2 linked regions of the Homo sapiens genome follow. The protein of the gene in region 2 purifies or fractionates together with the protein of the main gene of each other region. This does not show direct contact. Each region holds a gene or a part of one and is shown on either strand. Other genes may lie near its edges.

The links. Proteins that work in one complex are often made in the same cells at the same time.
Region 1: the proteins of SLC17A8 (region 2) and DNAJC13 purify together in Homo sapiens (affinity purification with mass spectrometry; one large-scale study listed by BioGRID and IntAct). This does not show direct contact.

The regions. Positions count from the first base shown.
Region 1 is NC_000003.12:132,419,900-132,424,957, forward strand, and holds part of DNAJC13 (dnaJ homolog subfamily C member 13), read left to right. Parts: exon of another isoform or gene 1-1,818; intron 1,819-5,058.
Region 2 is NC_000012.12:100,415,388-100,420,186, reverse strand, and holds part of SLC17A8 (vesicular glutamate transporter 3), read right to left. Parts: intron 2,159-4,799; coding exon 2,031-2,158; intron 373-2,030; coding exon 28-372; 3' UTR 1-27. UniProt on the Homo sapiens protein: Multifunctional transporter that transports L-glutamate as well as multiple ions such as chloride, sodium and phosphate.

The DNA of each region.
Region 1 (5,058 bases), on a different chromosome or scaffold from region 2:
GCTATCTTTAGTTTATAAATAATGTAACTACCTCTGGCTTTGGCCCTGAGACAAAAAAAGAAGCTTTGCTCTCACTTCTGCAACAAAAAAAGACCTACACTACAAATTCATGACTTTTTTGAAATCTATTAAAGAGCTGAGTCCACAGAGCAAAACCACTGGCTGAAAATTTGAGAGACAGTGCTTACAGAGAGTAGATGTCAATTTCTGTTTACCGTCTTCAGACACAACTGGACAAAAAGCATGATGAAAGCTGAATGCACAATCTTGCAAACTCTTATCCACAAACCTCCCTGGGTCTACTAGAAAAGACTGGAAAGAACCCTGGGTGAGTCTGCTGTGCAGATTGAGAGGGAGAGGAACAGCAACAGAACTTTTAAGAGGGTCAAGAAACTGCTGTGATTCTTCCCCTCTGCCTCTTCTATGGAAAAAAGCTTTAATCTCTGGGGAGAAGGGTATCTCTGTTGGCCCCATTGGTGAACATTCAGGGGGTAGATGAGAAGTGGGAGAGAATCTTATGCCTGGAGGAGGGGCCCTGAGCCCAAAACTGCAGTCGGGAGTGGTCAACAGAACCGAGAGTGCTGCCCTCCTGAGATTCAGGAACACAGTGTTTGACTTAGACTTAATCAGAACATCAGACTGTATCCCCCACCCCCAACCCCCTGCCACCAAGCTAAGAAGCTTTCAGTAACAAGTAACCCACAAAATACTACTAGGAAAGGAACAAGATTATGCAAAGAGGCACAACACAAAGAATCAAACAGGCATTGCTCTAGTAAACCATCGCCCACCAGAGAGACAAACTGTTCTGCAGATTCATGAAGGCTGTAATACACTGAGGATAACTATGGCAAAAACAAATCATAAACTAAGTCCAACTCCTAACCAGATTAACACAAACCCTTCACCAAAGGCCTCACAAAGAACAGGCGTGCTCATTTCCAGTCATAAAAATTACCTCAATCTCTACTCCTACACAACATGTCCAGCTTTTAACCAAAAATTATGAGGCCCATGAAAAAAACTCCCAAGAGAAAGAGCAGTCATCATTATACATTTTTTAAAAAGATAGGAGCTTAAAAAGAACTGTTTTGTACATGTTAAATACTATAATAATGACATTTTGCCTTGAAAAAGTTTGAGCAAACAATGCAGTGAGCATTGGATGGAGTTATAGTTTCTGAATTACTGTGAAGTAGTAGAAGGAAAAAAAGTTATAAGATGGAGTGGAAAATTAGTAACATATATGTGAATGTATGTGGTTCATTGACCACCTGAAGTGTGTGTGTGTATTTTGTGAATTCCTGCATGACTCAGTTGGGTACAATTTTCTGCGTTCACTTAGTGTTGGGACAGAATCACTATAAGCAAATGTGACATTTTCATTATGCTCAAATTGTTCAGTAATACACCAATCCTGTTAAAATTCACATGATCAAGAAAGCATTATAGCAGAATTGACTATATGCATTTCAATATGTAAATAGTTAAGTATGATTATACCAAAATACACAAAGGACGTGTCAGAGGCTTGTATCTTTACATGGAATCATTTTGAGATTTTTTTTGTGTGTGTGAGAGACAATCTTGCTCTGTCACCCAGGCTGGAGTGCAGTGGCACGATCTTGGCTCACTGCAACCTCTGCCTCAGCCTCCTGAGTAGCTGGGACTACAGGCGCTTGCCACCATGCTGGGCTGATTTTTTTTTTTTTCTGTATTTTTAGGAGACAGAGTTTCACCATGTTGCCCAGGCTGGTCTCGAACTCCTGACCTCAAGTGATCCACCCACCCAGGCCTCCCAAAGTGCTGGGATTACAGGTGTGAGCCACCATGCCTGGCCCATTTTGATTTTTGACAGAAATGTTGATGTCTACAGATTTGTCACATTGGTGACTCAAATACCACAATTGAGATTATTAGCATTGTCAGAAAAGAACAGGGTTAATAAAGTATAATCTCTTAATTTACATTGCAGCCACATTCCTGGAAAAATCTCTGTATATTAAACCCTGCAAAATGTACTTGGTGAGTTATATATAAAACAATTAGAGTCTGGGATTCATTCATTATAAATAGGTTTTTGCCTACATGACTAACCAACTAAGCATTTGGACTTCTGGACTTTTTTCTTTTTCCTTTTTTTTTTTCTTTTTTCAGACCTCACTCTGTTGCCCAGGCTGGAATGCAGTGACACGATCATAGCTCACTGTAGCCCTGATCTCCTGGGCTCAAGCGATCCTCCCACCTTAGCCTCCTTAGTATCTGGAGCCATAGGCACGCCATGCCCAGCTAACTTTTTTTTATTATTATTATTTTTAGTAGAGACGAGGTCTCACTATGTTGCCCAGGCTAGTCTCAAACTCCTGAGCTCAAGCAATCCTCCCACCTCAGCCTCTCAGAATGCTGGGATTACAGGTGTGAGCCACCATACCTGGCTCACTTGGACACTTGAAAGTCGTATGGTGTGGATGGTACTTATCTTTGGGACTGTAATGTATGTTGAATATCTAGTCTCATCCACTAAATGCTAGTAGTGCTCCCAGTCATAGTGCCTCAGATGGGATGGCATCCTAGCCCAACCATTACTTTAGTTCAAAATTTTAATCAGTGGTTTTCAACATATTTTTTCTGTTTCAGCAGTGTTCACATACCCAGCATATGCCAATTTATAACACTTCTTGTTATGTGGAGTGATTCTTAATCATAGGAACTCCTTTGAGAGTAACTGAGTTAGATTTCTTTGTAACAAATAGTTTAAACCAACATGGTTATGATCATCTTTGCTAATTTAAGATAGTTACCTGTGCAAAGGTACATTTAGGTGTGGTTCAGTCAATAAAACCATATAGCTTGCTAGTAATTCTTTTCAGATGCTCTTTATTCAATAGTCGACATATGGGAGTTTTACTTGTACTTTCATGGACTACTTGTGAAAAAGAGTGAGCTTTAAAGTCAGTGGAATTTTACAGTTTAAGCACTCAAGTTGCCCTTAGAAGAACACTGCCTAGTCACATATTTAGCACATGCCCAGTGGTAATATCTCTTTGCAATGGATTAATAAGAGTTTGATATTTTGATTATCAGATAGAAAACAAAACCCCTAAAGCAATCCAGAATTATTTTAGCTGGGTGCACAATAATCACACGTGTAATCCCAGCACTTGGAAGGCTGAGGCGGGAGGATCACTCGAGGCCAGGAGCTCCAACCTAGCTTGAGCAACCCCGTCTCATCAAAAAATGAAATAACTAGCTGGCTGTGGTGACGTGTGCTCGGGAGGCTGAGGCAGGAGGATTGCTTGAACCCAGGAGACTGAGATTACAGTGAGCTATGATTGTGTTGCTGCGTTTCAGTCTGGGTGACAAAGGAAGACCCTGTCTCTTAAAAAAAATTATTTCGACGCTTTGATTTTTGCCAGCTCTAGTTGCCACAACTTAATGGAAGGGTTGGTGAGGTTATGAATGGAGGAGATGTTCTCTAATATTTCATGTATTCTGTAATACATTTAAACGCTTATACATGGTGTTCTCACTTTTATTGTATTCCTTAGTCATCTAAGGCTATGGGGTTTCTCTCCTCAAACTTCTAGTCAAGCTACAGAATGTATTTTGAATGTTTATCAAATCTTAGAGCAGATAAGCCATTTTCCCCCCAAATCTTAGCACTAATGGGCTTAATTTTAAAAGTGAAACTTTGCTTTTTTAAGATAATTTGGTAGTGTTCTATAAACTGTAAAGCGCCACAGAAGAGGTAGGAATAATAGGGATATTTCAGAACTAAACTAGAAATGTATGTTTTTGCTATTTTGTATTGAGTGAAGGGGAAATTGTAGCAAATTAAACTTTTGTCTTTTAATAGTATAAAAAGAACAGTGTTTGGGTTTTCAGGATGCTTTCTGTAAAACTGTCTTCAAGTTGTATGTGTTAAAAGCTTAGGAAATTTAGTCCCGCATTATGCATTTACTGTAATGATAGGAAAAACAGCAACAAGTTAAAATATGGCTGCTAAAAATTTCTTTTGCCCATTTCAGGGCCTGTTTACCATAGTAGAGCATGATTATTAAGTGCCTTAATAAGCTGATAAGCTTAATAAGTTGATAAGCTGAAGACCTTACAGAAATAGTATAGTTTGTTCTTGCATAAGCCAGGTTATGCTTCAAAGATAAAATGAAATAGAAATTAGGTCTATAAAGTTACAATAATGTGTATAAACTAAAAATATGTAAATGATCAATAGCAATGATTTCAAAGCATTGCTTAAGTGAACATGTTTCTGGAAAGAAAGCTTTCAGGTGAGTATTTTAAGGCATTTTTAAGCTTTGGAAAGGGAAGGGTCATAGTAATACATCTTTCACAGAAAATTTGAATTTTTTTAACAACAGATAAACTTCTGTTTTGTCAGAAATACAAATTATTCCCCTCAGATGAAATGAGCATACATGTGATAGAAATAGAAGAGACAGGTCTCTTTTCAATACTTGATTTATACTGTTGAATAGAAGAGGTCAAAAAAAGTAACTGCTATGGTAAGTATGCTTGTCCCCTCCTCCCATTAAGTGTTTCTTCAGATTTAGGGGTTGCTTTTGAATTTTTCTTGCCCTGTATTTCATTAATATATACTCAGTTTGTAATAGAAAGGAATCAAGTTTTTAAAAACAATGGTGGAGATCTCATATTATTTCAGCTACCCTATGGTAGTGAAACTAGTTAAAAGTTGATTATGATGTGACAGTACAATCACTTCACTTTAAAATATCTGGGCAATTATTTGAAGATATGATTATCAGATGAAATTTGATATTACCGCTGGCTTTTTTTATTCTTCAACGACATCTATCTCTGGAGGTATCGGGTTCTTCAGTAAGTTAAGGAAGGCTAAGATGGTAGGTACTAAAATCTTTGTGATGTATTTATGGTTTGTTTTAAGATTCCTGTTGGTATCATACATATTACACATACTGATTTGTTGTTCATTTAGAAGAAAATGCTTTTACCTGTACTTGAGTCATATATTAAAATGAAGCTAAAATTTAAAAATAGGGTTAAAGTTCATATGGCAGT
Region 2 (4,799 bases):
GGAGAAGACAGAAGTGCCTCTCAGACATTAGGATATAGTTGAGAAGTTTCTCTCTTCATTCTGGTAGGATGTCAGCTCTTCCTCATCAAGGGTCGCTCCTCTCTGTCCTTTCCATTCCTTCTTCTGGACTTCACAATTCTGGGAGGTGGCTCCATAAGACATCTTCTTTTTGGGACTCGCAAAACTCTCATGGTTGAGTTCTATCTCCTCAGCTAATTCGTCCTGGTCAATGATTCCACATTTCTCCTCAGAGAGATTCTCTGGGTCAGCCCACTCCTGTTTCTCCCCAGAAGCAAAGACCCCATAGAAGATCACACCACTGTAATGCACCAGGGCAGCTATGAGGAACACATTCTGCCATTCTTCACGGGTCTAAATAAGGAAATAAAGTGCCAATTAATGTTTTAACTAAAACTAGAGATTACCAGTATGTCCTGGAGGCCTCCACTGTGAAAAAGCACCTGCCCATTTGGAAGGTGATGCTCTAGAGGCTCCTTGGGCGGGAGGACGTGTGTCAGAAGCACCATCCGGGATTCAAACCAAATTTAAAAGAAAAACTTAAAAAATGAAAGTTAAGACAACAATGAATATGAAAGTTAGACAAAACAATAAATACGTATTTTTTTAATTTAGAAAATTCTTTTTTTTTTTTTTGAGATGGAGTCTCGCTCTGTCACCCAGGCTAGAGTGCAGTGGCGCGATCTCGGCTCACTGCAAGCTCCGCCTCCTGGGTTCACACCATTCTCCTGCCTCAGCCTCTGAGTAGCTGGGACTACAGGTGCCCGCCACCACGCCTGGCTAATTTTTTGTATTTTTAGTAGAGGCGGGGTTTCACTGTGTTAGCCAGGATGGTCTCGATCTCCTGACCTCATGATCCACCCGCCTTGGCCTCCCAAAGTGCTGGGATTACAAGAAAATACATTTTAAAATAAACAACATATACAAATATTAATACCTGCAGCACCATTGCATAGCTTTTTGAATACTCAAATGGGGTTTCCCTTCACATAGTCAGCTAAATTAAAATTGTTTTAGGAACCCACCGTTTTAAATATCAGAAGTCTCCTTCTTGCTTGTTGTTGGATACATAACAATATTTGAGCCATTAAAGTTCTCACCCTTGACTGACAAGAACTTTATAATATTTTCAGTGTAAAAAAAAGTATGTCAAAAAATAATGGGAATTTGTGTCTAAGGTTGGGGGAAGATATCTTGGATTTAATAGTCAGGTTATCAATCCTATCATTTCATGAACAGAGATGGAAAACATGAATTCTCTGCCTATAAAATCCTACCTTTTCTGTCAAAAAGTAAGAAAATTTATCTCACACTTTCTTCTGCAGGAAGCTGCAAAAACTTCTGAAGTTATATTTGTAATAGGCAATCCAACTAAGAAAATAGATGGGGGAAAAAAATCCCATGGTATCAAAGAATTCTTATTTGCAGAAAGCAGCATCTTGAGACGTTTCAGTGACAAAGATAAAGAAATCATGTGGGCTGTGGTTGAACTCTGGATGGATCTGCCTCTACCATCCACCCTTGTCTAAATTCACAAAGGCTCAGTAACAACTGGGTAGGTTATCAATGTCCTGTTTATTTTATTCTTAACAAGGAAGTAGAATAGCACTCATCTTTTTATGCTGAAACATGCTAAGCAATGGATGGAAATAGGCTATAAGGTTTAATCACTGAGAATGAGAAAACAATCTTCAGTAACTCATTTATCCCAAGTTGACTGCCTCAGTTTCTTCTTTGGGTCTCTAAACAGTTTCTATGGCCCATCCCCTCTCCCCAGACTATTATTCCTCAATTGAGAAAACATAGAACAAAACAACAACTAGCCTTGGTGCCATTGATAAGCAATGATTTGAAAATCAGAAGAAGGAAGAAAAAAAAAAGAAGTTCAGCTGACTCAGTCAAGGTCAAGGACATACACATTTACAGACTGCAGTAGAGCCTTGAAATCTCAAGTTTGTGTAGAGCTCCAGTCCTCTGATATTGTAACCCATAGCCACAAAGGAGACCTTTACCTTGTGCCTGGTCATTGCACCGACAATGAGGGGACAGACCATTCCAGAGAGGGTTCCCACTCCGTTTGAGATCCCCATGAGAATGCTGGCATAGCGTGGGGCAATGTCCAGGTGGTTGACATTAAAACCTACAGTGAAGCCAAAACCTCAAAATCAGAGTCAAGAACAGAATTTCAAATATGCTTTGGAAAATACTCAGTTGCCCCAGCCTTTACCAATCTGTTTGGTTTCCTCTAGTATATGACTAGTTTCCAGACCAAGAGGACTGGGTTCAAGAGGCTGTGTCTGCACAAAGCAGCACTGGTAGACAATGCTGGAATTGATTATGGATATCTATCAAGGGCTCTCTCTATAAAGAGAATTATGGCATCTCTACCTTGTAGGTTCTGAATTCCAAAATACGGTGTTTGGCACAATATTGAAAAGCCTAAAGCCTGAATCACATTTATTCAGAGTAAATAATCATACAATCACATACAGTATGACTAGACCAAACCTTGCTTTATAATATTCCCACTCCTACCCCTGACTTACTCTTAAAAGGCAGCCAAGGGTAAGCCTACTTTATTGGCCACATGGCCACATTTTCACACAATGAAAAGGGTGCTTTTTAATGAAACATTTGCACAAACATTGGGAGAACCTTCTGTAATTTATGAAACACTTTCACACACCTACTTGATTTGGAGTCTGTAAATCTGGACTTGAATCTTATTTCTACTATGTAAACAAGTAATTTGGGGGCCTTTGTTTCTTCATCTCCAATATGAGGATAATATTACTATTCACTTCACAGAGGTGCTGTGATAGAGACTCAGGGGAAATAGGTATGTGAAGCCCTTGGCAAATATCAAAGCTATGCTAACTACCACTACTACTACTGCTACCTTCTGCTGCCATTGCAAAGTAACTCCCTCTCTTTGAGGTCTTCTATCAAAAGATAATGCTGCTGGCCGGGCATGGTTGCTCACGCCTATAATCTCAGCACTTTGGGAGGCTGAGGCGGGTGGATCACCTGAGGTCAGAAGTTCAAGACCAGCCTGGCCAACATGGCAAAACCTCACCTCTACTAAAAATACAAAAATTAGCCAGGCATGGTGGCACATGCCTGTAATCCCAGCTACTTGGGAGGCTGAGACAGGAGAATCACTTGAACCCAGGAGTTGGAGGTTACAGCGAGCTGAGATCTGACTTTGTCAATATATTGCAGGGGTGCATGTTCAAATCAGACAGACCTCAGTTCTGGCAGCTTAGTTGAGATGCAAGCCTAGACCAAGGATTTAAACTTCCTGAACCTTAGTTTCATCTACATAACGGGATAACGATTCTTATAAAATTGATGTAGGAATTAAGTTAAATAATGTATGTTAACTACATGGTGCATAGACGTGTAAACCAACATGCATGCTCTTTACAGGTGGTTAGCCATCCGTCTTGTTTACCACCATCTCCCCTGAACTAGCAAAGTGCCTGGCACATTGTAGTCACTCAATAAATAGTTGCTAAATTAATTACCAGCTTCAGCTACTGAAATTATAGCAAGGGGTTGTAGGCTTTATTCATCTTTTTGTCTTCCTTTGCTTTGCTTTTTATTTCTCTATTCTGTGCAAAAAAAAAAACTGAAAATAGGACTTAAAACATTTTTTTGTTCTAATCTGGCACACTGGTTGGTTGTCTTTCCTACTTCCCTTCAGGGAGAAATTTTGAGAAAACTTTTTGGTAATAATAAACATACCTTATCTTTCAGGTCAATGTGCCAAATGATCAGAATATAAAACAGCTGCAAGTTCATTAATCTTACCATGGATTTGAATGTGATAAACACTTTATTAGAAAAGAATCCAGAGATAAGAAGCAATTAATATGATTGTTGAGTATTATGCTCTGATACAAAGCCTGGGCATCTGCATTCAGCTAAAGATAATGTGGGAAAAGCCATTTAGGTTTCTAGCTGCACAATCCTGACATTTGGGGAGGGGGGAAAATCACTGAGAAATTGAGATATTGATAGATTTTTATAGCAGATAAAAAAATTACACATAAACTGAGAGAATCTATCTTCTGTATAGGACATTTCCCAAAACAGGCATCACTCATCTCTTGCCTATTTTTAACTTCATCTATCTCAGCAGTCTTGTCTATAATCAGCTCCTAAATTGTGCCAGTCAGTCTTCCCTGACATCTATGTTTATTCCTTTAAAAGTTGGCAGACAGTAGATTCTGAGGAATTATTGCCCCTGTGGCTGCAATCCCTCCCACAGTGTCATTGCTGGGACCAACAGACCTTTATTCCACACTCCCAGCCACTTCACTCGGCAAGTTAAACCACACTTTGGTTTCCCCACCAATAAAGTGAATATAGCAATACCTTTCTCATCAAGGTTGCAATGAGGATTAAATGAAATCATGTTTAAAAAGTGGCAAGAAGGCCAGGTGTGGTGGCTCATGCCTGTAATCTCAATACTTTGAGAGGCCAAGGCAGGAGAATCACTTGAGGCCAGGAGTTCGAGACCAGCTTGGGCAACATCGTGAGACCCTGTCTCGAAAAAATATATATATATCTGGAAGTGGTGGCACATGCCTGTAGCCCCAGCTACTCAGGAGGCTGAGGCAGGAGAATCAGTTGAGCATGGGAGGTAGAGGCTGCAATGATCCGCGATCATGCCACTGCACACCAGCCTGTGTGTCAGAGCGAGACCCTGTCTATTTTTTTTTTTTTTTTTGAGACAGAATCTCTCTTTGTCACCCAGGCTGGAGTGCAGTGGTGCA